Homo sapiens: one gene and its partners. The protein of the gene in region 2 purifies or fractionates together with the protein of the main gene of each other region. This does not show direct contact. Each region holds a gene or a part of one and is shown on either strand. Other genes may lie near its edges. The genes, in order: UBAC2, SLC12A6, SCAMP1, CLGN, AMFR, RAB6A and LGALS3.

What was found.
Region 1: the proteins of SLC12A6 (region 2) and UBAC2 purify together in Homo sapiens (affinity purification with mass spectrometry, with the first as the bait; one large-scale study listed by BioGRID). This does not show direct contact.
Region 3: the proteins of SLC12A6 (region 2) and SCAMP1 purify together in Homo sapiens (affinity purification with mass spectrometry; 2 studies listed by BioGRID and IntAct, with this or other methods). This does not show direct contact.
Region 4: the proteins of SLC12A6 (region 2) and CLGN purify together in Homo sapiens (affinity purification with mass spectrometry; 3 studies listed by BioGRID and IntAct, with this or other methods). This does not show direct contact.
Region 5: the proteins of SLC12A6 (region 2) and AMFR purify together in Homo sapiens (affinity purification with mass spectrometry, with the first as the bait; one large-scale study listed by BioGRID). This does not show direct contact.
Region 6: the proteins of SLC12A6 (region 2) and RAB6A purify together in Homo sapiens (affinity purification with mass spectrometry; 2 studies listed by BioGRID and IntAct, with this or other methods). This does not show direct contact.
Region 7: the proteins of SLC12A6 (region 2) and LGALS3 purify together in Homo sapiens (affinity purification with mass spectrometry; 5 studies listed by BioGRID and IntAct, with this or other methods). This does not show direct contact.

The regions. Positions count from the first base shown.
Region 1 is NC_000013.11:99,339,867-99,344,182, reverse strand, and holds part of UBAC2 (ubiquitin-associated domain-containing protein 2 isoform 1 precursor), read right to left. Parts: intron 3,864-4,316; coding exon 3,618-3,863; intron 1-3,617. UniProt on the Homo sapiens protein: Restricts trafficking of FAF2 from the endoplasmic reticulum to lipid droplets.
Region 2 is NC_000015.10:34,327,354-34,331,669, reverse strand, and holds part of SLC12A6 (solute carrier family 12 member 6), read left to right. Parts: intron 1-4,316.
Region 3 is NC_000005.10:78,415,632-78,419,947, forward strand, and holds part of SCAMP1 (secretory carrier-associated membrane protein 1), read left to right. Parts: intron 1-909; coding exon 910-1,018; intron 1,019-3,143; coding exon 3,144-3,272; intron 3,273-4,316. UniProt on the Homo sapiens protein: Functions in post-Golgi recycling pathways. Acts as a recycling carrier to the cell surface.
Region 4 is NC_000004.12:140,417,412-140,421,727, forward strand, and holds part of CLGN (calmegin precursor), read right to left. Parts: intron 1-4,316. UniProt on the Homo sapiens protein: Functions during spermatogenesis as a chaperone for a range of client proteins that are important for sperm adhesion onto the egg zona pellucida and for subsequent penetration of the zona pellucida.
Region 5 is NC_000016.10:56,360,952-56,363,748, forward strand, and holds the end of AMFR (E3 ubiquitin-protein ligase AMFR), read right to left. Parts: intron 2,106-2,797; coding exon 1,958-2,105; 3' UTR 501-1,957; downstream 1-500. UniProt on the Homo sapiens protein: E3 ubiquitin-protein ligase that mediates the polyubiquitination of lysine and cysteine residues on target proteins, such as CD3D, CYP3A4, CFTR, INSIG1, SOAT2/ACAT2 and APOB for proteasomal degradation.
Region 6 is NC_000011.10:73,715,699-73,720,014, forward strand, and holds part of RAB6A (ras-related protein Rab-6A), read right to left. Parts: intron 3,193-4,316; coding exon of another isoform or gene 3,087-3,192; intron 3,021-3,086; coding exon 2,915-3,020; intron 665-2,914; coding exon 553-664; intron 1-552. UniProt on the Homo sapiens protein: The small GTPases Rab are key regulators of intracellular membrane trafficking, from the formation of transport vesicles to their fusion with membranes.
Region 7 is NC_000014.9:55,131,880-55,136,195, reverse strand, and holds part of LGALS3 (galectin-3), read right to left. Parts: intron 2,845-4,316; exon of another isoform or gene 2,842-2,844; coding exon of another isoform or gene 2,804-2,841; intron 1-2,803. UniProt on the Homo sapiens protein: Galactose-specific lectin which binds IgE. May mediate with the alpha-3, beta-1 integrin the stimulation by CSPG4 of endothelial cells migration.

The DNA of each region.
Region 1 (4,316 bases), on a different chromosome or scaffold from region 2:
GTCATGAGGGAATACCTGCATCTCTCTAGGCGTACACCGGGCATAAATGAGATAACATATACTGAGTACTTACTATAGGACTGGCAAAATAAATGGTGGTGGTCTTCTTACTGATAAAGAGTGAAACATGCTAATTCTGCAAGAGAGACAGGACCTAAGCTCCATAAGAAAAAGGACTGGGGGCTATCTTTTTTACACCTGTGTCCTCAATGTCCAGCTCTAGGCCTACCATATAATAAGCACTAAGTACTTATTTGTTGAAAAGTAAATGAAAATAAACTTTTCTCCTGGTATTACATTCCAATACAACTGCACCCTGTACGGTACTCGTGCATGCACACAAATACGGCAGATAATTTCCAGTGGTGGTTTAACAAAAGAGTTCTCTACGTGGTGATTTATCATACTTATGTGAAGAAAACTGAGACACAGCTGAGTGAAGAAGTTCAGCAGGAGGCTAAGTGCTCAGGTTTGGGTGTACCCATGTGCGGACCCTAGAAGAGAACTTAGGAAGCTTAGGAAAAAATCAAGAGTCTGGTCTGTGCTGCCCAGCAGACCACTCAACGTAAAAGCCCAGCAAGAGCCCAGGGGCTGGTGTCCTGCTCTGGACTTCAGATCTGTTAGTGAGACCATCCTATGAAAGTGGAGGAGTCTGACAGCAGTGTAGACAGCCATAAAGGCCTGTGCCACTTCACAGGCGCCTGGTGGGAATGCACGCTCCAGCAGGGCAGGGGTTTGGGTCTGTCTCATTCCCTGAGGCCTGGGTACAACCTGGCAGATCCCGTGATGTTCCAAGTATCTGGGGGGAAAGACACCGTGCGGAGTTTACAGCAAGGCAGGAAAGGAGAACCACAATGGGGGTCCGTAGAATCCTGGAGCGAGGGCGTGCGCAAACAGCCAAGAATCCCACTTGCATAAACTGCTGCTGCACCATGAAGTGCCTGTCTGTAGGCCACAAAGTGAGCATGTGGTCAGCAGTGGAGACCCACCAAGTTACCAAGCCAGGTGGGCCGACAGAAACCCATCATCAGATGGACACGGGCATCTGGGCTCAGCATAGGTGGGGCTGCAGGGCATGGGTGAGCTGCAGAAGCAGGCATGCCAGACCACCCTGGCAGCCACCTCTGCTGCACCACAGCCTCTTCCCAGCTAACACCGACTACCACAGCTGGTGGGCCCCTCATGACCAAGTGACAGAGGGGAAAACAGCCAAATGGACAGGCTGGCTCAGGACATGAGTGGCAGCTGAAAGAAACGGCTGCATGATGGCTCAATCTTGAAAGACAGCGATCAGGGGAACCCCCTATGGGCAGAGCCTGGGCAGCACATTTGGTCATCAACTCTGTGTGAAGAGAAGTGGCCTGAGGCAATTACACGTGTGGATCTGCTGGGCATGGCAGATCACCTGGTTGGTCGGTCAGGGGACTGGAAGGGAGGGAACAAGGAGGATCCAGCTAAAGGAACAGCATCAAGTGTCTTGCAGGTCGTGCCCACCACGGGCATCCACCACAGAAAAGGCACCAAATGGAAGGTGGACAGAATGACTGTGGCTCCATCACCAGATAACCCAGCGCTGGCACACGAATGGATGGCCATGGTGGTAGCACAGAGGAATGTGTGGGTCCCCCTCACCTAGGCCGACCTATCTCCTGCCACTATGGAGCATCCAACCTGGCATCCACAGAGACTGTGTGTGCCTGATAACTACCGTCTGCAAGCAGAACAGTCACTCAGCGCCGAGACTATGCTGGGCCCTTTCCACTCTGCAGTGTTATGGAACACACTGTCTCCCACCCCTTGCCCCTGCCCCAAATTCACACGCTGAAGCCCTAACCCTACGATGTGACTGTATTTAAAGGTAGGAACTTTAAGGAGGTAATTAAGGTTCAAAGAGGTCGTACGCATGGGACTTACCCAACAGGACTGGTCCCCATTTTGGGACAACTCAGAAGGGCTCTCCCAGCTTCACTGTGCTCCATAAGACCAGCGAGGCTTTTGCTGGAACTGCAGCTGCTCCCTCTGTCCCATCTTGCTGCCTTCGCCAGCCCGCCCCCATAGATACTGATGCTGACGGTGTTCTCTCATAAACTCTTTGTATAAAAATCTTCCTGGGGAGGCCAATCTGAGAAATGCAACTTCTCTGGTTTGCTTATGAGGACAAATTCAAAGCTCTCCAATGGAGAATCTCCTCCCAGGATTCCAAAGGTATCTCAGACAACATATTTCCCCCAAATCTGCTCTTTTGATATTGGTGAAATGGAACTATCAGTCATCTATCTAAGATTATCTAGGCCAGAAACATCAGAACCATCCCCTACTTCTTTCTCTCCCTCATAAGCTCTGTGCCTCTACCTTTATACTCAATCACTACTCAGTTTTTCTGACCTTGATCATTCTGATTTCTCATACCTTTCGCTCTTCTCTCAGTTTCCTTGAAGGATTTACCTCCTGCTAAATACGAGGCTTCATCTGTAGCCTGTGTTCATCTTGGATGTAGCTCTTCTCTTACAGAACTTACTACTTCTTTGCTTTCGGCTCTCAGCTCTCATCCCTACAGAGGTGACTCCATCACCTATATATATATGTAGCTTCCACATTTCCAAGACAGAGATGTCCATCCTCCAGCTTTAAATACACCATGGGCATCTTTATGGCATGTTCCAGAGTCACTCAAATTCAAGCACATCTTTAAGAAACAACTTTTGCTTCTCTATTTCTCTTGTAGACTCTGCCCCTAATAAGCTGCCCCCTTCCTCCCCCCCCCTGATATAAACTCTGGGACCTGCATCTCCAATGGGACTCTAAGGACCTCAAACCTGATTTCACTTCTCCAAACCATCGTGAGATCTGCAGACCTACTTCTTGCATCCAATGCTAGTGGAAGACAGAGAGATGGCAGAGGTAACTGTACGGTTTACAACTACCCCAGGGGTAAAGAAGGTGGAGGCGAAAAATGGGGAGCCCTGTGGGCTGGCTCACAGAAGTGTCCAAGAAAGATCAGGCCTGAGGTTTTAGCCTGATGTGCACTAACCCTCCTTCTCTCACTGCCCATGGAAGACAAATGTAGTATCAGATTGTTTGGATGCAGAATTTGTAGACAAATGTGCAATAATTTCTGATTATTGATAGCAAGGTTGAGAAAACACAGCATTTTTTTTTATCTACTCCTTGGTTGTTCCACTGAAAATCTTCTTGCCTTCATATTCTCTTCATTTCAACCAAGGAAAATCAAGAAATTTTACATTTGTTCTTCACTCCATAGCATATGATTAGCATTTTAACAGGAAGACACTGTGGCTTTTACAAGATTATAAAAACAGATAAATAGCACATCTTGTTAACTAGGTTGGTGTTTCTCTAAGAAGTCATGCTTATCTAATATAGGTGGAACAAGAATGTCCAGTTTGACCAATCTTTCAGCTGCAATTTATTTTTTACCTTTTTAAAAAACTAAGAATGGCCACTAACAGAGACCTACAATCTCTTTGGAAATGTCAAAATCCACTTGCAAGGCACTGGAATAAAATGTAGTCTCTATCTCACATGCAATCACAGAGGAAAGATTTGCTTGGGCCACTGAGAATTTCTAAATTTTTAGTGATTATTATCACTTTTACCTGCTGCTGTCTCTGTCGCCTCCCTTGTGCAAACTGAGAGAACATCAGCTGCCGGTCCAGCAGCTCCATTCTCTGCTGTCTCTGGATGTCCAGCGTGGCTCCCATCCCAATTCTGGCTTCGCTGGTGGGTTCTGAAGAAGAGAAGATGGGTTCAAGTGTCCAAGAAAAGAATTTTGCCATCCAGCTGGGGATGCAGAGCACCTGATGCACCTGGAACATTTTGCTGTCGTAGCACAGACCGGACATCTAGAAGAAAAACGTCCAATGTGATTGTTTAAATGTAGTATTATTTTAAAAAATGTACACGACTCAAAAATCAGCAGCCTCCAGACACTGCACACGGTATTTTTCTTAGTCATAGCAGTGTTAGGCAATAAGCAAAATCCTCTACCACACTGCAGAACACTAAGCAGTGCAAATCAACACAAAATTGAACTTAGTAAAACAAAATTGTTTTTTATTGAATTAGAAGAGCTAGCAAAATTCTAATCATTTAGTATTCAAAGTTCTGGTAAAAGATTGTCAAGACACTGTCTTCATTTTTTAAAAAGCCGTAAAAGATCTGATTATTGAAACACTTTCACACTGTACTGACTCTGCGGTTACCTTTGTTGGCAGATGGCCATCACAGAGACACCAGCAGAAAACAACTGCCATGTCTCAGCTGACCCAGTCACACGATCAATTTATCAGAGAATA
Region 2 (4,316 bases):
TTCTTGAGGACAAGGATACAAAATCATTTACACCTAGTGTAATATGTGATATCACATATAACTTGTACACCATAAATATACATTGAGTTGAAGATCTTGTAGACTTAAAAACAAGAGACAAATTAAAAACGTACTCTGATAAAGGCATATTAATGTATGTACGAGAGTAGTGCTACTTCATCTGGCTGCATAATGAATGATCTAGAGAGCTTTTCAAAAAATGCCTCTAGGCTGGGCGCGGTGGCTCACGCCTGTAATCTCAGCACTTTGGGAGGCCAAGGCGGGCGGATCACTTGAGGCCAGGCGTTCGAGACCAGCCTGGCCAACATGGTGAAACCCCGTCTCTACTAAAAATATGAAAACTTAGCCAGGTGTTGCGGTGCATGCTTATAATCTCAGCTACTCAGGTGGCTGAGGCATGAGAACCTGGGAGGCGGAAGTTGCACTGCAGCCTGGATGACAGAGCGAGACTCTGTCTCAAATAAATAAATACCTCTACCCTGACAAACAAAACCTAACAAAAAACAAAATTATCATTTTTAGTCACACACCAAAATAAGTGAATTATATTGTTTTGCTAATCATAGGTGACTATTACTTATTATTATTATTGTTATTATTATTTTTTGAGACAGAGTCTCACTCTGTCGCCCAGGCTGGAGTGCAATGGTGCGGTCTCCACTCATTGCAACCTCCGCCTCCTGGGTTCAAGTGATTCTTCTGCCTCAGCCTCCCCAGTAGCTGGGACTACAGGCACGTGCCACTACACCCAGCTAATTTTTGTATTTTTAGTGGAGATAGGGTTTCACTATGTTGGCCAGGATGGACTATTACCTTTCTCTTAAATAAGTCTTCTATATTATATAATTATTGAATACTATCCATGTTTTACCTCAGCATTCTAATAGCTAAAATATGTTGATTTGGTACCTTCTTAGCTTGTCTGAAAGAAGCATCCTCTTGATAGTTTTGTTTTTTTTGTTTTTGTTTTTGTTTTTTTTTTGAGACAGGGTCTCATTCTGTCAACCAGGCTGGATACAGTGGTGTGATCACGGCTCACTGCAGCCTCAACTTTCTGAGCTCAAGCAGTCCTCCACCTCAGCCTCTTGAGTAGATGGGAACACAGGTGCACACCACTATGACCAGCTAATTTTTTTTTTGTAGAGACAAGGTTTTACCATGTTGCCCAGGCTGGTCTCGAACTCCTGCATTCAAGCAGTTAGCCCACCTCAGCCTCCCAAAGTGCTAGGATTACAGGCGTGAGCCACCGCGCCCAGCTGGTTATATACCTTAACTGTTTTTCCTCTCTTCTCTATACTCTGTAGCCAGATTAAACTTTATAATATACTGCTTTATACCACAAGAAGCAATCAGCCAAATCCAGAATATGGGAAGTTTTATTGGATAACTAGATTCTTCAACAAATAATTGGGATGGGGTGGAGGAGGAGTGATGGGAAGAGAGGGAAAGCTGTTACAGATAAAAAGAGCCGTATCAGCCAAATGCAGTGTGTGAACTTGGTTTGGATTCTGATGTGCATAAAACAATTGAAAAAAGATACTTTTGAGACGAGTGGGGGAAATTTGAACATGTACATGATATTAATATTAAGGAATTGTTAATTTTCTTATAGATGTTTATGACATTGTGATAATGTAAAGCTGTTATCTATAAAGATATATATTGAAGTATTTACAGGTTAAATGAAATGTACTCCAGCTCCTTCCTCCCCACTCCTCCCCAAAAAAGTTGGGGAGAGATAGACAAAACAAGATTAGCAAATGTTTATAATTTGTTGAAGTAGAGTAAAAGGTACATTTTACTATTTCTTAGCTTTTATCTTTGAAGATGTCTGGGAACTCCTGAGCTCAAGTGATCCTCTCACTTGGGTCTCTCAAAGTGCTAGGATTGCAGGCATGAGCCACCATGCCTGGCCAATTTTTAAAAAGGTTAAATTACAATTAAAGGATTTTCTTTTGAGTGTGTCCTAGAATGCTGTAGATATTTGATTAAATATCAGTGATCAATACAGTGATTACCTCAACTTCTTGTCTTTGATCTTCGGTGGTCTCTTCTGTGTCCTCACTAAGTCTTTCCATCATGAGCCCAAATTCTTTTGTTCTCAGTGGCATGTTTCTAGATTCCAGATTCTCATAAATTTTGATATTACCTTTACTGGAATGGAAGGAAATGAAAGAAGGTACTCCTGCAAACCTGGGAACCTTATGAAAGTTATGCTTTCCCATTTTAAAGCTGTTAGAAGAAGGGGAATGTTTCTAATGCTGATGTTTAAGGCAACTTATAATGCTGTAAGCTTTTGAATTATGGCTGCTGCTTCTTTTGCCCTTCGTGTCTAACATATACTTCTGGACTACTAAGAACTTTGTGCAAATTCTAAAAAGGCACTCCTTTGTGCCCTGAGCCATCATGACTTCACTGGAGAAGGGCAAGCTGGATTTCAACCCTCTTCCCCTTGCCCTTCTGGCTTAATGCCCTCGTGCACTGTCTACACAGCTGTAGCTGGTGAGCTTGTTGTTTCAGAATAATGAAGTTACATGAGTTTAAGTTTTTGGTGATGTGTGTTTCTGAGGAGTAGGTATGAAAGTTTGGAGAGCTATAGTGTAGGAATTATGTGAGCATTTGAATGTTAAAACAATGTATTCTTTTAATGAAGTTTTATAAGTTTTACAAGTATGTGGAAAAACAAGAAGCTATTCTCTGTTAAAACCCTGTAATTAGTGCTTCAGTGTATATATGTTTTTATTTTTTGAGACAGGGTCTAGCTCTGTTACCCAGGCTGGACTTGGGTAGGCAGTGGCTATTCAGAGGCACAACTGTAGTACACTGCAGTCTTGAACTCCTGGGCTCAAGCCATCTTCCCACCTCAGCCTCCTGAGTAGCTGGGACTACAGGCATGCACCACCATGCCCAGCTAACTTTTGTATTGGCTTTTGGTAGAGATGGGGTTTTGCCATGTTGCTCAGGTTGGTCTCGAACTCCTGAGCTCAAGCGATCTGCCCATCTCGGCCTCCCAAAGTGCTAGGATTACAGGTGTGACCCACCGCACCTGGCCCTGGTATACTTTTAAGAATCTCAACAATTACATTTGAAGGTACAAGCACAAAACTGCAGAACATACAACATATACACATGCATACAGCACCTTGCCTTAATGGTAGTTCAGTACCTGATGAGTAGGAAACACTATCACCATATTTGCTCAGCTCTAAGGTGTGTACATTACCATATTTTAACATTTCTGATATTCAGGTGCGTCTTACTTTTGAAGAATTTTTAAGCTACTGTTAAAGTGGAATTTATACTTAACAAGATTTCAGAATCAAGTCAGTATTGTAAATAAGTCAGTCTGAGGGGCTTTGCGAAACCTGAAGTTTTGAAGTTACCTTTGGATGTCTTAACTGAAAAAAATGTAACGGCTGAAGTTTTTTTCTTCTTAAAATTTCAGTTTTTGTAGTTGAAAACTGTAGAAATAGAAAACAAAAGCCACATTGTTAGGAAATGACAGGTCTTCTAATTTTAGTCTTTTTTTTTTTCTTTTTAAAATTTCCTGTTATCTTAGCTCAGAGCTGGGTTTCAGTCTCCAGTTTTCTAGCTAATTTAACCAATGGCAGCTTTTTGTTTGTAGTTTTATTACGGCATTGCTAATCCTCATTATATTTGTCGTGGCCTTGAGCAAAAAACTCAATTGATGACATTCACCTGTTTATAGTCATAACCATTTGGTAAATAACTTTAATTTTTGGCAAAGTAGCACCTGAATTTCTCTCATTTTACCAGACAGGTCTACATTTACTTTGGGGTAAAGCTATTTATTTTTCATATTGCTAGTTTAAAAAAAGAGAGAAGAGAGAACACTAATAAGTTAAAAACTCTTATGTACACATCCACGTTTTCACTTTGAGGAGCTATGAGAAATTGAATCTAACCAAAATTTACTTTTATTCTATTTTGAGAGCATTTGCATTTACCATATCTAATTTTTTTTTTTTTTGAGACAGAGTCTTGCTCTATTGCCCAGGCTGTAGTGCAGTGATGCGGTCTCGGCTCACTGCAGCCTCCGCCTCACAGGTTCAAGCAGTTCTCCTCCCTCAGCCTCCTGAGTAGCTGGGATTACAGGCGCATGCCACCATGCCCGGTTGATTTTTGTATTTTTAGTAGAGACGGGGTTTTACCATGTTTAGGTCTCGAACTCTTGACCTCATGATCTGTCTGCCTCGGCCTCCCAAAGTGCTGGGATTACAGGCGTGAGCCACTGTGCCTGGCTAAAGTTGTTTGTTTGTTTTTTTAACAGCCTT
Region 3 (4,316 bases), on a different chromosome or scaffold from region 2:
AGTTGTATAAATTCATATTGGCCATTATAATATCAATAACATTTGCTTTCAGAGCAAAATAAATCTTTATATGGTTACATTTCTGTTGCTTAATTTTTAACTCACTTTCAAGTCTGGATTTGCTGTCTTGTCACCCTTCAAATACTCATTCCTCTTTTTGTCAGCTTATACCATTTGCTTTATTCCATTATTAGGAATTATTGAATTTATGTATCATCTCAGTGGATAAATTTTTATTGCCTTTGGTCCCACTTTTTAATGCACACTACCATTAAGGTAAAAATGATGGAATAATAGATATTATTGGGAGAGCGTTGCAATGGTAAAATAACAGTGTTAGGAGGTAGAAGATGGCAAAAATCTGAGAAGAAAGGAGATTAATAAGATGCCTGATAGCATGTAAGGGCAAATTGAGTTATAAAGAATTTCTTAATCACATCTTTTGACCTCATTCTCCTATAACATTTAAGATATTAGAAAATATTCTTGCATTGGTGGCCTTATATATCATTTAATCTGATTAATAGGAGCCAATTCAGTTGCCCTTTTTTCTATTGTTCATTTTCCTCAACTGTTCCCATTGCCTCTGTTCTTCACTCATTTAGGCATAGAGGTCATCTTAATTTCATTTTCCAGATTACCTAAAGATTGTGACTACTTTTACTAAGAGAAGTTTTCCTCTCCTAATGGACCCAACATTCCCACTGAGAGTTTCTGGAACCCAAAGACCAAATGGACCAAATATCCTCATAATATTTTCTGTAACTATGATCTTCAGTAAATTCCTGTACTTTGGAAGTGTGTTTGAATTAGGTTTCTCTCATAGTAGAGAAGTAGGAGTTAGCATATAAATGTTAAAGTATTTTATACTTCTGACAGTCTATTCACATATTGATATTTTTTATTTAGGAACATGCATTGGCCCAAGCTGAACTTCTTAAGCGCCAGGAAGAACTAGAAAGAAAAGCCGCAGAATTAGATCGTCGGGAACGAGAAATGCAAAACCTCAGTCAACATGGTAGTATCCAAAGAAATTTGAAATAAAAATAACTTTTAAATACTTTACATTATGTCTATACTAGCTCCTAGGTCATTTGGCCTGTGGATAAAACCCTACCCTGTTTTCCTGTTCTAACAAGGAGATCAGACACAGCAGATTGCCTGTTTGATACTCTGTAGCCTTCTAATCTTGGCTGATTTGCATAGTCTTTTGTTGATAGCTTAGAACAGTGTTAGCCTCATCACACAGAAAATGAATGTGAATATGATAATTTTTGCTTACTCTGAGGCCAGGAGCCTTTGATTCTGCAGTTAGGCCCTCCTTGGTTCTGTGGACTCTTTATGAGTACATTTGCATGTACCCTACATTTGACTTTTACCTGATTTATTCAGGTTAATTTCAGATTATCTGCCCCAGTCCTCGCAAGTATTTTGTCAAATCATGTTAGAAAAATTGGAAGCCTAAGGTATTCATATGATGCCAAAGAAATAAGTGGTGAATTGTTGCAGTGAATTCTATTAAGTTTGTGCCTGCCAAAGCACTTCAAAGGAGTCTCTTAGGGAAAGCTAGCAGTCTCTGAGTAAGAAGAGATAAAAGAGCTAGATAAGTCATTGTTAGGATGTCTGGGATAGTGATGCAATGCAAAGCTAGAACAATAACAATATACAGAACTATTTCTTTTTAACTTAGAATGTGTAAGTCTAGGGCCTCATGAGAACACATTTATCCTGGGTCATTTTCTTGCTTGCAGCATCAGAGGTAGCATCTATAGAAGGAGAAACTAAAAGTTGAACTGGGACCAATGTTTCTGAAGTACCTGTAACTAAAATCCATCCTATTTCTTTAGCACTGGCAAATACAAACTATTTCTATGAGAGTTATGTTAGTAAAGACAGTAACAAAGAGTAGGAAATTAACAATTAGACTGCAGTATGTTAGCACATTTTAGTACTTTTCCCCTCTTAACTCATACTTAAATCATCAATACAATCCTGTGAGGGGTGATAGAGTTTTTATTCTCATTTTACAGATATGGAAACTAAGGCTCGGAGGAGAGAGTAAGTTGCCCAAGGCGACCTTGCCAGTAAGTGGCTAGCCACTTCTGGTTCCAGAGCCTCTCTTCTTTACGAGTATTCACTGCCGCTTCTCAAATAGTATGAGATTGGTATGAGAAATGAACTATATGAAATTTGAATAGTATGATAAATGGAACACAGGAGACTCATTGGGGAGAATCAGAAATAGGTTATTGTTCTTTCTATAAAAATTACCCTGGTCTGGGAAAAGTAGGTAAAATTGAATTTTTAAAAACTGTGGGATATAACATCTAAAATCGGGAAATGGCCTTAGGTGCTGTTTTTACCCGCTATTTTCATGTTTTGACTTCTTTATTTTAATTTTTTATTTCCCCCACCATTTCTCAAGTCTTATTTTTAATCTGGTTTCTTTATGTAGACACATTTTTTTCCCTTTACAGTTTGAATTTGTTTTTCTCTGCATTTTTAAAGGTTCTATAATTCTTCAGCTTCCTTATCATGACTGTTTCATGTTTTCTTTGTTGTAGGGTTTTCGTACATGTATCTTTTGGATATTATTTTTTCCCAGATTTTGAGTATTCTAAATTTGATTCTTTGGTATTGGTTTAATCTTGGACTTAACAGAAAACTTGAAAAAATTAGAAGCTAGTCTTTCTCCACTTGAGATAGGAATTATAACAGAATTATATTTGAAGATTTAAGATGCTGAGGAGAAAATTGAAGTTTAAAAACTGGATGGCCCTTTCATGCCAGCCAGACTCTTTGGACTGTGAAATAAATCTGTTTTAGGGTAGAAGCACTGGATATGTGCTTTCTTTTTGTTTCTTGTTTTTTCTGTACATAAATGGTTCCTGCTAAACATGGTATGATATGACACTGGAAAATTATTTTACTATCTAATGTGCTCTAAGGTGATGATATTCTGAGAAAATTTTTTAAAAATCTAAAGCTTGTCTTTCAGAGTTCTAGGAATACAAAGATATAGTTCTACAGTTTTTCTGAACTTTTGTTAACATAATAGAGTTTTTCTTTATTATGAAACAAAAAATAATATCACATTTGTTATAATATAAATAACCTTTTCTTTTTCTAAAAAAAATTTACAGGTAGAAAAAATAATTGGCCACCTCTTCCTAGCAATTTTCCTGTCGGACCTTGTTTCTATCAGGATTTTTCTGTAGACATTCCTGTAGAATTCCAAAAGACAGTAAAGCTTATGTACTACTTGTGGATGTGTGAGTATACAACAATTTACATCTTTGCTTAGAATTTGTATTTTTGTTGTCAAAATCCGCATTTTTATTTCAAGGATAGTATAGCAAACCAGTCTTCTTTTTCTATAGATAAAGCTTAATAATCATGATTTCAGAGTGAAACATATCCTATTTAGGTACTTCAGAATTGTACTATATGTGACAATGTAAGTCCTTGGCTGAGAAAAACTTGTATGTTGAGAACTGGCATTCTTTTGAGGAAAAGACAACTTCTCTGTCATGTGGGTAAAATTTTATAAGATTCTTTTTCCTTGAAAGATGTTATCTAGACATGATTTGCTTGGAAAAAATAGTGCATACTAATTTTATGCAGAGGAAGGCCATTTAAAAGAATTCTGTTAAATGTAGGCGTTTTAGCTATTTTTAAAAGGGCATAAAATTATTACATAAACTAAGTGTTCTTTTTATAGCTTTGAGTACAGTTTACTTTTTGTTTTCAATTGCGATACTTTTATTATTGAAAGTGCTTAATTAATACAGGACATTTTGTTGAACGGAACATTAGAATATACGTTTGGGGCTCTGATGCTTACATCACTTTGAGTATAATAACTCATGGAATACTGAAACAAAATGTCAAGCCGTTAACAGTTTTACTCTGTGTGCACAGACCTCCCACTTACTCTCTGTTTCATTTTTATTCCAAACAGTAGTCTCAGCCTCATTTTGATACCCTGTCAGAAGGGGAGGTAGCTATTGAGGGTTCTCACATGCACAACATCTGGGTTAATGGATAATTTGTAGGGTACATTCTTGATGGAGGAAATTTACTTGTTTTTACTTTATGATTAATGAGACTACCACCCTTCCCTTAATGGATGAGATAATTTTCCTTAAAATCTTTTAGGAGCATTCTTCATGTATGTCAAGTTGTTTTGGAATGTGAGAAGTGTTTCCTAATGGATAGTCTATTTTTAACTCTTCATTAGTATTTTTCGAGATATTCTTGATCTAATATCTTTTGCTGAATCCTCAGTGTCAGTAGTATATATTTTTAATATTAAA
Region 4 (4,316 bases), on a different chromosome or scaffold from region 2:
TCCCTGTTTGCAGACGACATGATTGTATATCTAGAAAACCCCATTGTCTCAGCCCAAAATCTCCTTAAGCTGATAAGCAACTTCAGCAAAGTCTCAGGATACAAAATCAATGTACAAAAATCACAAGCATTCTTATACACCAGCAACAGACAAACAGAGAGCCAAATCATGAGTGAACTCCCATTCACAATTGCTTCAAAGAGAATAAAATACCTAGGAATCCAACTTACAAGGGATGTGAAGGACCTCTTCAAGGAGAACTACAAACCACTCCTCAATGAAATAAAAGAGGACACAAACAAATGGAAGAACATTCCATGCTCATGGGTAGGAAGAATCAATATCGTGAAAATGGCCATACTGCCCAAGGTAATTTACAGATTCAATGCCATCCCCATCAAGCTACCAATGCCTTTCTTCACAGAATTGGAAAAAACTACTTTAAAGTTCATATGGAACCAAAAAAGAGCCCGCATCGCCAAGTCAATCCTAAGCCAAAAGAATAAAGCTGGAGGCATCACACTACCTGACTTCAAACTATACTACAAGGCTACAGTAACCAAAACAGCATGGTACTGGTACCAAAACAGAGATATGGATCAATGGAACAAAACAGAGCCCTCAGAAATAACGCCGCATATCTACAACTATCTGATCTTTGACAAACCTGAGAAAAACAAGCAATGGGGAAAGGATTCCCTATTTAATAAATGGTGCTGGGAAAACTGGCTAGCCATATGTAGAAAGCTGAAACTGGATCCCTTCCTTACACCTTACACAAAAATTAATTCAAGATGGATTAAAGGCTTAAACGTTAGACCTAAAACCATAAAAACCCTAGAAGAAAACCTAGGCATTACCATTCAGGACATAGGCATGGGCAAGGACTTCATGTCTAAAACACCAAAAGCAATGGCAACAAAAGCCAAAATTGACAAATGGGATCTAATTAAACTAAAGAGCTTCTGCACAGCAAAAGAAACTACCATCAGAGTGAACAAGCAACCTACAAAATGGGAGAAAATTTTCACAACCTACTCATCTGACAAAGGGCTAATATCCAGAATCTACAATGAACTCAAACAAATTTACAAGAAAAAAACAAACAACCCCATCAAAAAGTGGGCGAAGGACATGAACAGACACTTCTCAAAAGAAGATATTTATGCAGCCAAAAAACACATGAAAAAATGCTCATCATCACTGGCCATCAGAGAAATGCAAATCAAAACCACAATGAGATACCATCTTACACCAGTTAGAATGGCAATCATTAAAAAGTCAGGAAACAACAGGTGCTGGAGAGGATGTGGAGAAATAGGAACACTTTTACACTGTTGGTGGGACTGTAAACTAGTTCAACCATTGTGGAAGTCAGTGTGGCGATTCCTCAGGGATCTAGAACTGGAAATACCATTTGACCCAGCCATCCCATTACTGGGTATATACCCAAAGGACTCTAAATCATGCTGCTATAAAGACTCATGCACACGTATGTTTATTGCGGCATTATTCACAATAGCAAAGACTTGGAACCAACCCAAATGTCCAACAATGATAGAATGGATTAAGAAAATATGGCACATATACACCATGGAATACTATGCAGCCATAAAAAATGATGAGTTCATGTCCTTTGTAGGGACATGGATGAAATTGGAAAACATCATTCTCAGTAAACTATTGCAAGAACAAAAAACCAAACACCGCATATTCTCACTCATAGGTGGGAATTGAACAATGAGATCACATGGACACAGGAAGGGGAATATCACACTCTGGGGACTGTTGTGGGGTGGGGGAACGGGGGAGGGATAGCATTGGGAGTTATACCTAATGCTAGATAACGAGTTAGTGGGTGCAGTGCACCAGTATGGCACATGTATACATATGTAACTAACCTGCACAATGTGCACATGTACCCTAAAACTTAAAGTATAATAAAAAAAAAATCTAAAGATAAAGATGATAGTAGTTATCAAACACAAATAATATGTAGACCTCTTTAAAAGTATCATGATTCCTAAATGTTCACTGAAATTGTTTTTATTATAATGTTGCTTAAGTGTATATAAACATAAAAATGGAAATTTTATAATTATAAAACCAAAATACATTTATATATAAATGCTGAGAAAAGATACAAAAATTTTTTTATCACAAATTTAATGTGGTAGAGTTTTACTAAAATCAAAGCACATTCAAAAGATCAAACAAATATAGGGCTTATTGTAATCAGGTAGACTGCTATGGAGAAAGTTCTTTTGCATATATAATTCCTATAATTCCACAATTACATAATTACTTATATATTTATGGACAAAGACAAAAATGATGGGTGCTGTCATTAACTAGGATTTGATCTCTCTAAATCACAAAAGAGGTATAACTGGGATAGGAAGTAAATGTAAAGGGATCAATTTGACACAATGAAATAGGCTTATTTCCTTAATTTCCTAGTTATTGGCACAGAAATTTGTATATCTGCAAATTGCTTATTAATTGTGAACTCTAAAAGCTTCATTGTTCTAAAAGCCTAAGGGCCTTCCATGTTACATAGTAAAAGGCACTTTGCTTGACTGGCTATTAATCATTTTTGAGCAAAATAAAAACACATAAAATAATACTACTAATAATGAACATTAATATAACTTTAGACCCATATCCTCTCTTTCAAATGAATGTACACTTTAGGTTCCAAACAATTAATTTGTTGAAAAAAAAACATTCTAAGTGCTTTGTTTGAACTCTGGTGTACTGGGCTGCCAAGAAAGAGTTAAGAGGAAGCCAAGCAGGTAGTGCTCTATCTGGAACTCTACCCTTAACTCAACCAGAGCACCCCAGTTTTATTTGTATTCTATATTATAGTTTTTCCTGACTTTTCCTTAGAAATAGTTGCCAATGCTTCAGAAAACAGTTCAGAAAACACTTTATCTTGAAAGTTTGTTTCTTCTTTAAAATTCTATGATCTTATATTTACATCAAAGAACTAGCTAATTTAATCTTTACAGCCCAGGACATGAATAGCGTAGGTACTATTCCTAATCAACAAAACAAAAACAGAGAGTTTTAAAGAACTGCAATTGGTTAGAAGGCATTCTGTAGACAATGCAGTTCTATTGTTTTTATTTGTTCTTTTTTTTAAAAAAAAAAATCAGAAATACAGACTTAATACTTTCTGCGTAATGCTGCAGTATCCTATCATTCTTCAGTGCTGCACCAGCTGACAATTGAGAATTAGATACTGAAGTTCACAGTCTTGAAATCTGTCTCACAATGGTGCCAACATGTTATTAAGTTCCAAACAAAACTATGAGGTTTGTGACATCTCATTTCTTAGAGAGAGGTATGCTATTGACAAGTCTGTACTGAAACTCTGAGAGGTCAGATGCTGGGGTAATACTACAAGAAAATGAAGTAGTTAATTTATGCATTTAAAATTGTTTTAAATCACGTGGTAAAACATTCTCATTGTTGTACAACTAATTTCCAAAACTTTCTTCATGCTCTAAAACTAAAACGCTATACACTTTTAACAACTCCCCACTACCCTTCCCTCCAGCCCCTGGAAACCATCTTTCTAATATCTATCTCTATGATTTTGACTACTCTAGGTACTGCATATAAGTGGAATCATACAGTATTGGTCTTTCTGTAACTGGCTTATTTTACTTAGCATAATGCCCTGAAGCTTCATCCATGTTGTAGCATGTATCAAATTTCCTTCCTTTTTAAAGCTGGACAGTATTCCATTGTGTGTATACACCACATTTTGTTTATACATTCATCTGTCAGTGGACACTTGGGTTGCTTCCACCTGTTGGCTGTTGTGAATAATCCTACAATGAATATGGGTATACAAATAACTCTTCGAGACCTTGTTTTCAATTCTTTTGAGTATATACCCATAAGTTGAATTGCTTGGTCATATGATAATTCTATTTTTTTTTGAATCCTCATACTGTTTTCCACAGTGGCTTTACCATTTTACCTTCCCACCAACAAGGCACAAGGGTTCCAATTTCTACACATCCTTGCCAACATTTGTTCAAAATTATGTTTTTTTAAATAGTAGTCATTGTAATAGGTCCTAATATGGCGTAGTATCATATTGTGGTTTGATTTGCATTTCCCTGATGATTAGTGATACTGAGTATCTTTTCATGTGCTTGTTGGCTATTTATACATCTTCAAGGGAAACATGTCTATTCAAGTCCTTTGCCTATTTAAAAAATCAGGTTTTGTTTTTGTTTTGAGTTGTAGGAGTTCCTACAAATTCTGGATACTGACCCCTTATCAAATATATGATTGGCAAA
Region 5 (2,797 bases), on a different chromosome or scaffold from region 2:
GGTGTAAAATGGAAGGGCGGACTGAGAACTTCACTTCTTGCATCATTTTAAGCTACTTAATAAGCTCCTGCTCTAAACACTGTGATATGGCTGTTTTGTAATGTGTCAAGACCCTCTAAAATTGATCCAAGTAATTTTCTCTTTTCACACATCAGAAACCTGTGAACATGTGGAATTAGTGGCACCTACAATGGGTGCAACGTGTGAAGTATAATGTAATTCGAGGACAGTAAAATAATCTTTCGCTACACACTTACCTGAAAAAAAAAAAGATATAAATACAAGGGGAAGAAAAATGTAGTTCTGCCTTCCCCAAATACACTACTAGGAAAAACAAAAGTTCCCAATTCAAAAACATGGGAAAAAACCCTCCAACCAAAATAGTATACACAAAATCCAAATCAAAATGGGGTTTAACGTTGGCACCTCTGGAAAAAGATGCCTTAGCTTCCAGCCACACAAAAACATGCCTTAGCTTCCAGCCACACACAACACACCAATAGAGTTTGCTTTTTATTATTATTATTGTTTTACAATAAAAACAAATAGCTATGCTCTCAGCAAAACAAATTAAAAAAAAAAATCACAGAAATTTACTAACAGCATTTCAAGGTAAGGCTTTTGAAAGATTTATTGAAATAAATTATCTTTGCCTAAAAATTTACCTATCACCTTTTTCAATTACTTTTCAACATTCTAAAAACTTTCCGTTATGTAAAATACATTTAAACTTTGCCAATAATTGTGGATAATACTGGATTCTTCCCAAAAGGACTACCACAAAACAAAGCTTTCAAAGAGTAAAAAAAAAAAAAAAAAAAAAAAAAAAAAAAGTAATCCAATGGGGCATAAAACTGAGGTCTGTAACCTATGACTTCATGGTTCAAATCCTTAAAGTTAAACATGTGAAGAATTTGAAGAGATTTGGGACCTGGGCCCTCTCCAAGGCAGGTAGGTTCACACCTTACCTTCTCTGCTGAATTAAACCAGGAATAACACAGCTAGGAAAACGCAGTGCTCCCAGGATAAAAGATACAAAAGTTCTTTTTTATTTCTTTAATAAAGCCCTTCAAGGTTTACTCTCCCATCTTGCAAGGCCCACATCTTGTTCAAGGACCAAACCCACAGGCTTTAGCACTGCCTAATTTACTTCACCAATGAATGAAAACCATAAACCAAAGCTTGCTGCCTAACCACTCCCCAGGTCCAGACGGGACAAGGAAATGCTGAGAGGGGAGGGGACCCATGGGGCACACTCATGAGATGCAGGAGCACCAGAGTTCACGGAAATCAAGCCGGCTTTGGACTGGAGGCTCGGAAAGTCAGTCCCAGATGTAGTGGGACAGAAAGGGGTGACTTCATCACACCCTATAGCCCTGGACTTTCCCCTCCTCTGCTCCAGGTATCGAACCAAGAGTTCCTTTTCCAAGATGCCCTGCTGGCTCAGGGGTGCATGAGCCCGTGGGTCTGGCCTCTGGCACAGTCTACATGCTTCCACAACAACGACAGCAGTTTGATAACAGATGTTACCCCACGACGTGGGGGCGGGCTCACACTGTGCGCCTCCCCCACACTCTTCCCACTGGGTGTGGTGCTCAGGACACCTGCATTTGTGGGACGTACGCATGAGGCAGGAGTAGAAGCTGCCTGCTGCAGGCAGGCGACTGCTCACTTCCTCCTGATCGTCCCCCACCCCAAGCAGTCCAGTCAACACCAGAAGAGATCATACCTACAGTTAAAATTTGCAGTGTTTCTAAGGGGAAGAGAAATGTCACATAGAAAGTATTACAAAGAAGGATTAAATTTATCAGCTGTCCAAACACTATAAGACCACATGCTTTATACAGCGGCAATGCAGTCAAGCCCGCTTTTCCATGGAGCGGGCAGAATTGGGACAGGCCTCCTCCAGTCAGTCGGGCACAGGGCGCAGGAGGCAGCTGAGGAAGGCAAGGGAGCGCTAGGAGGTCTGCTGCTTCTGAAGCCTCCGTTCCGCGGCGGCAGCCAGCATCCTTCGACGCAGGGTCACGGGGTCAGAGGACGCACCTTCCGAGGGGAGGAAGCTCTCTGAGGCCGCATCATCTTCAGAACTTTTGTTCAAGAAACGTCTAGAAAAAACAGAAGACTTTTTCTCTCTCATAGGAGAGATGGGGAGCTGTGGAACACAGCCAGAAGGTTGATTTCACATCTCCCCATGTCCAGGCACCTTCATGAAGCTGTCACTCAGCACCACCCAATGACCAAGACATCCAGCCCCCAACAGATGGGCGCAAATTCTCTCTGCACCAGGGAGGAACCCTTCAGTGCTGTTCCCTGCTGTCTCTTCCTGCCCATCCCCTCCACCCACAGACACAGCACAGAACTCCCACAATCACAGGGTCTGCCAGGGCCCAAACCCACTTGAGGAACACAGTGCTGGCCCTGTCCTTAAGAGCTGGAACAAAACCCCCTCTATCCACAGGACACACCTGCTGTAGCTGCCACCAACCATGGGTGTGTGACGCACAGATGCGCTGAGTGTGTGTACAATGCTCAGCTGAAAGGCAGAGTGGTCAACAGGGAGGACCTGGGAGACAGACGCCAGGGCCAGGCCAGTGCTAACCTCTCCAGCCTCCATTTCTTCAGCTGTATGTCAGCTGAATGGGTTAACAGTGCTCCCTCTTAGAGCTGTTAAAGTAATTCATATAAAGGGCTTAGATCAGGTTAGCACACAAGTGCTCTCTCGGCAAGCGTGGCCAAAGGGGTCCATGGGAGATGACTGACAGTACCAGCATCAGAGGTAGACCAGTGGGGCCCAGTG
Region 6 (4,316 bases), on a different chromosome or scaffold from region 2:
ATATATTTTGCATCCTGTGACTTGAATATCGCTTTGCTCATTTGACTAAGGTATCACAATCAAGCTATTCAGTGCAACTACACAGTCTGGCTCAGCCACACAATTAAAAACCAACAACCAAAAAACAAAAATCCACACCACTGAATTATAATGAATGTTTTATAAGAAGACTACTAAGAAAAGAGTGTGCATTTAATCATTATGAACAATTTTTAAAGATAAGGTTTTTCCAAAATGGCTTGCTCTTTAACAAAACACTTTTCATACTTATGAGATCTAAAAAAAGCAAAATATTTACTGGCTTCATGTCTAAACAAACTTGCACAAGAGTTATTTACACATGGGCTTAAACAAAATAAAATTCATTTCCCTTAAGGACTGGCTGTTTAATATTTACATTTATATTTGAGGTTCCCATGCTAAAGAAAAGCAGGGGAGGACGTAAACTTAAGGATTAAGCATGTCTCCTTTCAAAACAATTTCTCAGTGAACAAAAATAAAAGGCTGCATCACAGAAATCAAACATTACACACATATAAAATAACTCCATACCTCTTGTCAGCAAGATCTGTTTTATTTCCTACTAGCATGATGATAACATCACTTCCTCTTTCTGTTCTGACATCATCAATCCACTTTGTAGTTTGCTGGAATGAGTTAACATCTAGTATAGGAGGGTAGACAGAGAGATTAGTGTTGCTGAAAAATGCCTCCCCAGGTGGTGGGCACCTCCCTCCAAAAAAGCCCTGGAAGTTGGAAGGGGGCTGGCACATTAGTACCCCACTTTTAATGTGCCTGCAACATAACTCCATTTTATCTGATTACAACTGTCAGCAATTTAAACAAATTACAAGAATAAAATCTTCAAGGTTCCTTTTAGAGTAGTTTAAAAATTTTTTGAACATGATCAAATGAGTACAATGTAGTATTTAATTGAAAAAAAAACAACTTTTTGAAATATAAGGACAGCTATGGCAGATAATATGGTGTCACATTGCCACAATGCTTTTTTGATCACTTACACATACCAAACATGACAAAGAAAGCATTTTCCAAAGTATGTCAGCCAGTAAGTCCCAACACATCCAGAAAATCTGTAAAGCCTTTCAATAGCTTTCAACACCACTGTTTGCACTGCTTCCTCAGTTTGTGATCACTTTAACCTAAAGTTTATTTGTTTAATGCATCAGAAACACTTGTAACAAAATTTATCTTTTCTAGTGTTGGATTCTAAGTAGAGTACTTCAACACTTCTTACAGCAGCTAAAGAAAACAACGTACTAATATTTGAATCACATTTGTGGATTTAAAAAAAAATACACCAGGTTTCACTTGCTGTGGTTAAAGTAAGCACAAACATTTTAAAGCTACAAAACGTGTCAATGCACAATATGAACATACCTCTTTTTTTTAAACAAACAGCAACCCAAAGTAAAGGTGCAAAGGAAGAAAGACTGCATATAGCACCTATCTCAAAAAAAGTCCTTGAATGCAATCTTCTAATTTTGCCAGCACAATTATTCGTTATTAGATAACAATTCCTAATTGAGGAGATATGCAAGAATGCATAGTAACAGTATTACTAGTCCAAATGAATAGTTCCTTTGTCTATTTAAGATTTTTTTTAGCCCAAGATACTACATCTGTGTAGTGTGGTACACATTTTTTAAAAATTTAAAAAGAAAGCCCCAGATACTGGGCTGGGCACAATGGTTCATGCCTGTAACCCTAGCACTTTAGTTTTTGTTGTTGTTGTTGTAGTTGAGACAGAGTTTTGTTCTTGTTGCCCAGGCTGGAGTGCAATGGCACGGTCTTGGCTCACTGCAACCTCCGCCTCCCAGGTTCAAGAGGTTTTCCTGCCTCAGTCTCTCAAGTAGCTGGGATTACAGGCATGCACCACCACACCTGGCTAATTTTGCATTTTTAGTAGAGATGGAGTTTCATCACGTTGGTCAGGCTGGTCTCAAACTCCTGACCTCAGGTGATCCGCCTGCCTTGGCCACCCAAAATATGGGGATTTCCGGCGTGAGCCACTGTGCCCGGCCTAAACCTAGCACTTTAGAAGGCTGAGGCAGGAGGATCACTTGAACCCAGGAGTTCAAGACCCTGGTTTTCCTATAAGTTATGAACCACTACATGTAATAATGTTTAATATTGCCTAATATATGTCATAAACCAATTTACAAAGGCAATTTCAATCAGAAAGCATTTTCTTGTCAGTCACCAATGCTTCATGGAAAATTTACAATCACTTAAAAGGCCACAGGCATTATTCAATCTTTAGAAAAAAGAAAAAGACTACTAGTTGTTTCACCTCCTATTTAAAATTTTTTTCTTGGAGAGAAATGAAAGTGTAATTTGTTAGCAACAAAGTAAATAAATCAGTCACAGAACCAAAATATGATTCAAATAAAAAAGATTAATAGAAAACTGTACATTATGTTTTCTCTGTCTTCCTCTACAGAGAGAGAATGGCTGGAAGGGGAAAGCAGAGAAAAGCTGGCTAGCAGAAGCTTGTAATAGCCTCAATAGAAAGCTTGGAGGATTTGGAAAACCTGGCAAGAGACTTAAATGCAGATCATTTTATTTTAGAGAAATCTGAGATCAAGGAAACATTCCTCCAACTATAATTATGGTATGGTTTACGAATAACAGGATACTAAGAAACCCTTGAAGAGGATTCATAGTTGGACCCAAAAGAAAATTTCTGGGGCAAAAAACCTGGCACAGTTACATATAAAGCATATTGGTATAAACACCAAAGCAAATATTTCTGACCTGGCTGGTATGTAATTTACTATGATAAAACTTATTTTTACATGCCAGTAAGGAAAACAAGCACAAGACAAGAACATGCATGCAGCTAAGCTAAAGGTTGAAAGAAGATTAGAAATGCATAATTCCCTCCACTCACTTGTGATATCATAAACAACAACTGCCACAGTGGAGTCACGAATGTAGCTAGGAATCAAGCTCCTGAACCGCTCTTGACCTGCTGTGTCCCATAATTGCAATCGTACCTAACAACAAAATCAGTCAAACAAGCAAGAAAAATAAGAAAGGTCAACCCGTTGCAATATACCTACTTGTGATATCGTAAACTACTACAGCTGCAGCAGAATCACGGATGTAACTGGGAATGAGGCTACGGAAACGTTCCTGACCCGCAGTATCCCACAGCTGAAGCCTGATCTGTGAGATGGGAAAAAATAAATAAAAAAAAAAAAACCAAACTAATACTAAAAAGAAAAAAGAAACAATGTTTTTTGTAAAAGGGAGAGGGTGGGAAGGAAGTAGAAAGAAGACTCATGCAAGAGGTTGCAGGGAGTGAGGAATGAAAATAACACAAAACTCCTTTTTCAAAAGGGAGAAATATTAAAAATTTGCATACTCCAAACATAAATGACTGGAAAATGCCACTGGGAAAAATTTCACAGAATCAGAAATATGGCTTCCCTTTTTCCCTACCTAAAACCTGTTTGAATCCCTATGCCTTTCAAGTGGCAAAAAGTAGACTGTTGATGGTTAAATAGAGAAAAAAACAAAACAAAACAAAAAAACCTAAGGTAAATGTCAATGAGCAGCCTAAGCTATCAGAGTAAAGGAATTAATGCTTCTTTGAAAGCTTCTCTCAAGCTAAAATGTGTCTCTTTCCTATTGGGTCTAGAATACTTTCAAACCTGTTTTTTAACTACCGTGCTTGTATTTCTCCCATACATTTTCCCCAGAACATGCGAGTGTGTGCGCGCACGCATGCACGCGTGTGTGTGTATAATGTAACAAAAAGGAGGAAGATCTTTTTGCAGCCCTACATAAAAATGTCTTTACGTACTATCCATATCTATATTACAGGAAGAAAAGCCTGAAAACAAGTATCAAGTTCTTGCATCATGATAAAGTCGTTTCCAAGCTTTCAAATTTTTTTTTTTTTTTTTAGACAGACTCTCATTCTTGTCGCTCAGGCTGAAGTGCAGTGGTGTGATCTCGGCTCACTGCAACCTCTGCCTCCCGGGTTCAAACGATTCTCCTGCCTCAGCCTCCCGAGTAGCTGGGATTACAGGCGCCCGCCACCACGCCCAGCTAATTTTTGTATTTTTAGAAAAGATGGGGTTTCGCCATGTTGGCCAGGCTGGTCTTCAACTCCTGACCTCAGGTGATCTGTCCATCCTGGCCTCCCAAAGTGCTGGGATTACAGGCGTGAGCCACCACACCTGGCCGCTTTCAAATTTTAAGAAATGACATGCTATATATCAAAACATAAAAGAGAATATTCAGGAAAAAAAAAACACCTAAGAAATAACACTGGAAATTAAATA
Region 7 (4,316 bases), on a different chromosome or scaffold from region 2:
GGTTTGCCTAAGGGGTGGTCTGGAGACATCAGTCCTGCTTTCTCCTGTTCCTTCCCATGTCAAGGCTCCAAAAGCACAAGATGCTTCACAGCTGTTGTAGGTGCTCCAGCAGTGAGGGGAGGAGGGCAGCTGGGCCCCTGAGGCATGGGTGAGTTCTTCCTAAGCTCAGGATCACCTGTGCCATGGCCTGAATTACCTGGACCTTGAAACAACCAGAATATCCTTCTCTTTGATTTGCCCACCTGTGATATTTACTCAATCACTTTTAGAAATGGCATCGGCCCCAAGGGATCCAATAAATGTCCACTACTTGATTCAAATGCAAGATATTGGCTGGGTGTGGTGGCTCATGCCTGTAATCCCAGCACACTGGGAGGCCAAGGTGGGCAAATCGCTTGAGCCCAAGAGTTCAAGACTAGCCTGGGCAATATGGCAAAACCCTGTCTCTATGAAAAATACAAAAATTAGCCGGGTGTGGTGGCGCATGCCTGTGTTCCCAGCTACTCGAGGGGCTGAGGTGGGAGGATCATTTGAGCCTAGGAGGTCAAGGCTGCAGTGAGCTGTGATGGCACCACTGCACTCCAGCCTGGGTGACAGAGCGACCTCATCTCAAAAAAAAAAAAAAAAAAAAAAAACCATAAAATATTACCTTATTTTTGGTAAAACTCAAACAGGCAGAGCTCCTCCTAGGGCTTAACATATGCTTCATTTATACACACTGGATATTTTATACAGGTTGAGTATCCCTTATTTGAAATAGGACCAGAAGTGTTTCTGATTTACATTTTTTTTTATTTTGGAATATGTCCTTATGCCCAGTTAAGCATCCCTAATCTGAAGAGCCAAAATCCAAAATCTCCAGTGAGCATTTCTGTAGAGCATGGCCTCTGAACATCATGCAGGCATGCAAAACGTTTGGGATTTTGAAGCATTTCAGATTTCTGCATTGGGGATGCTCATCCTTTACTATACTGCTATTATTTATATCATAGTCAGACATTACCTTTGACTAAAATATTTTTGCACATCTTTTTTTTTTTTAGACAGGGTCTTGTTCTGTTGCACAGGCTGGAGTGCAGTGACATGATATCAGGGCTCACTGCAGCCTCCACCTCCCAGGCTCATGTGATCCTCCCACCTCAGCCTCCCAAGGAACTGGGACTACAGCCACACAACACCACACCCAGCTAAGTTATTTTTTTTTTTAGACACGGGGTCTCACTATGTTGCCCAGGCTGGTCTCAAACTCCTGGGTTCAAGTGATCCTCCCACCTCAGCATCCCAAAGTGCTGGGATTACAGGCATGAGCCACCGCATCCAGCCACACATCTCTTTTTGAACATGGTCATTCTGAAACCTATTCAGAAGTGGTTAGGTTATGACCATGCCCATTTTCCAACCTAGGGAACTGCTGGCAGCTTGACAGGGAAGTCACGGTGACTCCAGAGGTTACTGCATCTTTCATTTACGTTACATCCTGTAGTGCTTGGCTTTTTAAAGCAAAAGTTGTGAGCTCCTCTGCATGTGCCTCCTTCCCCAAAAGGCTGCCACACTACCGTATAAGAAACCGTATAAGTTGCTACTGCAGGGGGACCTTGAGAGAAGAGTTGTTACAGAAAAGGAAAATAAATGAAAATTTTTAATTCAGAAAAAGAAAGTCTCCCTCATTTTGGATGCCATACGAAACAATCTTGAACTTCAAGGTGGGCAGAAAGCTTAGTTCCTTTAATTACACATACTTCTTCCACCCTAAGGCAACATATCAAAGACCCAGCAATAACGTTATCAACATTTTGATTTCTTTTAAATGTCCTCATTGCACAGGAGCTTATTGTGAACCTCAGCACCACTGACACTTCAGGTCAGATGCTTTGCTGTGGGGCGCTGTCCTGTGCACTGCAGGATGTTCAGCAGCATTGCTGGCTTCAATACATATGCTGCCAGAACTCCAGCATACCACACTCCAACTTGTGACAACCAAGTGTCTTCAGGCCAGGTGTGGTGGCTCACACCTGTAATCCCAGTCATTTGGGAGGCTGAGGCGGGAATATTGCTTGAGCCCAGGAGTTCAAGACCAGCCTGGGCAATACAGCAAAACCCCAGTCTCTACCAAAAAAAGGAAAACAAAATGTCTTCAGACATTGCCAATATCCCCTGGGAGCAAAATCATGGCTAGTTGAGGACCGCCAATCTAGCTAGTTAGCAGTGTATCCCTACATGAATGTACACACGTGGTTCAATAAAAACCAAAAAGGTAGTTTCAATTGTTAAAACTAGCTGAATTTGCCTTATAAAGGGTCCTAACATAACTCTATTCAAATTAAGATGTGTTTAAAGGCTGATTCCAACCAGAAAGTCAAATAAAGAAGGCATTTCCATAATTTAATATTTATTCTTTTCAAAGCCTCTGCTCAAGCATGTTTAGTTTATTTTCCAATCTAACCAAATCCAGTTTGGGAAACAAAGCAGATCTCGTTGCATTTCCACTGTTTCAACACCACCTCGGAGGGCAGTATAGATTGTGTCTCGACACATTAGACAAGGCCACTAGAACAAAACCTGGCATTTGTGTGGCGCTTTTCAGCTTATGAAGCATGTTCACATACCTTATCTATTTTAGTTATAATGACATTCTTTGTGGTGAAATCTTGTACTGTCCTGCCATCTCACTGTCCAGCCTGGGACATGAATCATCCCTATGTCCAGCCTATCTACACTGTAGATGCTACCCACCCACAAGTCACTTAGTAGCAGGCTTGGTTATCAGATCAAAAAAACAGTATATATAGGGTTTGATACTAACCATGGTTTGAAGCATCCACAGGGGGTCTTGGAATGCATCCCCTGAAAATAAGGGGGAGACTACTGTGTTCTCACCATAAGGAAACTGAGGCTCAGAGAGATAACATGGTGGCCCAAAGTCATCTGTCATTGGCAGATCAAGGAGTAGGGCTCGTGTCTTTTTACTCCTTATTTAGGCTCATTCTACACCAATAGAAAACATCACACTTTGAAATTTTAAAGTACAGTCCTTTGAAAGTGTTAATTACTTCATTGTGAAATTAATTCTCTGACTTACTCATCTGTAACTACATAACATACTGAAATTGTAAACAAATTTTTTAAAAAGGATTGTGTTTTGGTCAGAAAACTAACTGGGTGATTCATTCAAGCACAAAATAATATTGAATATTGAATACAAGAATGCCATTTTGTATAGTCATTTGCTAATTATAATGACATTTTAACCAATAAAGTGTACTTTTCCAAAAATTGGGTATGCCCCGTCAACTTCCAACCATGAGATTTCTTTTTTGAAAAGCATTATAGGCCGAGTGCAGTGGCTCATGCCTGTAATCCCAGCACTTTGGGAGGCGAAGGCAGGAGGATCATGAGGTTAGGGTTTTGAGACCAGCCTGGCCAACACAGTGAAACCCCATCTCTACTAAAAATACAAAGAATTAGCCAGGTGTGGTGGTGGGCGCCTGTAATCCCAGCTACTCAGGAGGCTGAGGCAGGAGAATCGCTTGAACCCGGGAGGCAGAGGTTGCAGTGAGCCAAGATGGCACCACTGCACTCCAGCCTGGGAGACTGCGAGGCTCCATCTCAAGAAAAAGAAAAGAAAAGCATTATAACTGATGCTCTTTTGAAATCAAGATTATTAACCTCAAAACTTTCAGGAAAACAAAAAAGACATCTATTCAGATAAGTATCATCCTTACTTGCCTGAAATTTTTTTCTTTTTTCTTTTCAGATGAGTAGTTTACAGAGAGAGACATACAATCAAATGTCACAAATCTTCCCACTCTACAGACACTATAGATATGTGAACCCCACCCTGGTGTTTCCAGGATCAGAGAATTTTGAACAGTCAGAGGGGAAAAAAAAAAAACTTCAAAAAATAAACTAAAAGTAGAGAAATACTAGCTGGGTCTCCACATTTGTAAACACCTACAGTAAGCAGTTCAGTGTAGCTTCAGAATAAGGAATTTAAACATGAGTTAGAATACAGACCATTTTAATCGGCTGTTAATTGGTAGCTTTTCCCTTTAACAAAGAGTAGCTATCCGCTGCACTATGCTATTCTAGGCCCACCCAGCAATCAGTCCAGTTGTCTGGGTTCCCAGGAACACTTCTGAAATGTCTGCTCATAAAGGTCCCTGACCTGTGCGCAACCGTCACAGAAGAAGACTACTTCCTGAGCCCCTAGGCACTGCCCTACACTGCTCCTCAAGTAACACAAGAGGCAGTCTACTTCCTGTCCTTGCTGAAACACAGAGCAGGACTTGAGGAAAGCCCATTTGCCAAAGACAAAT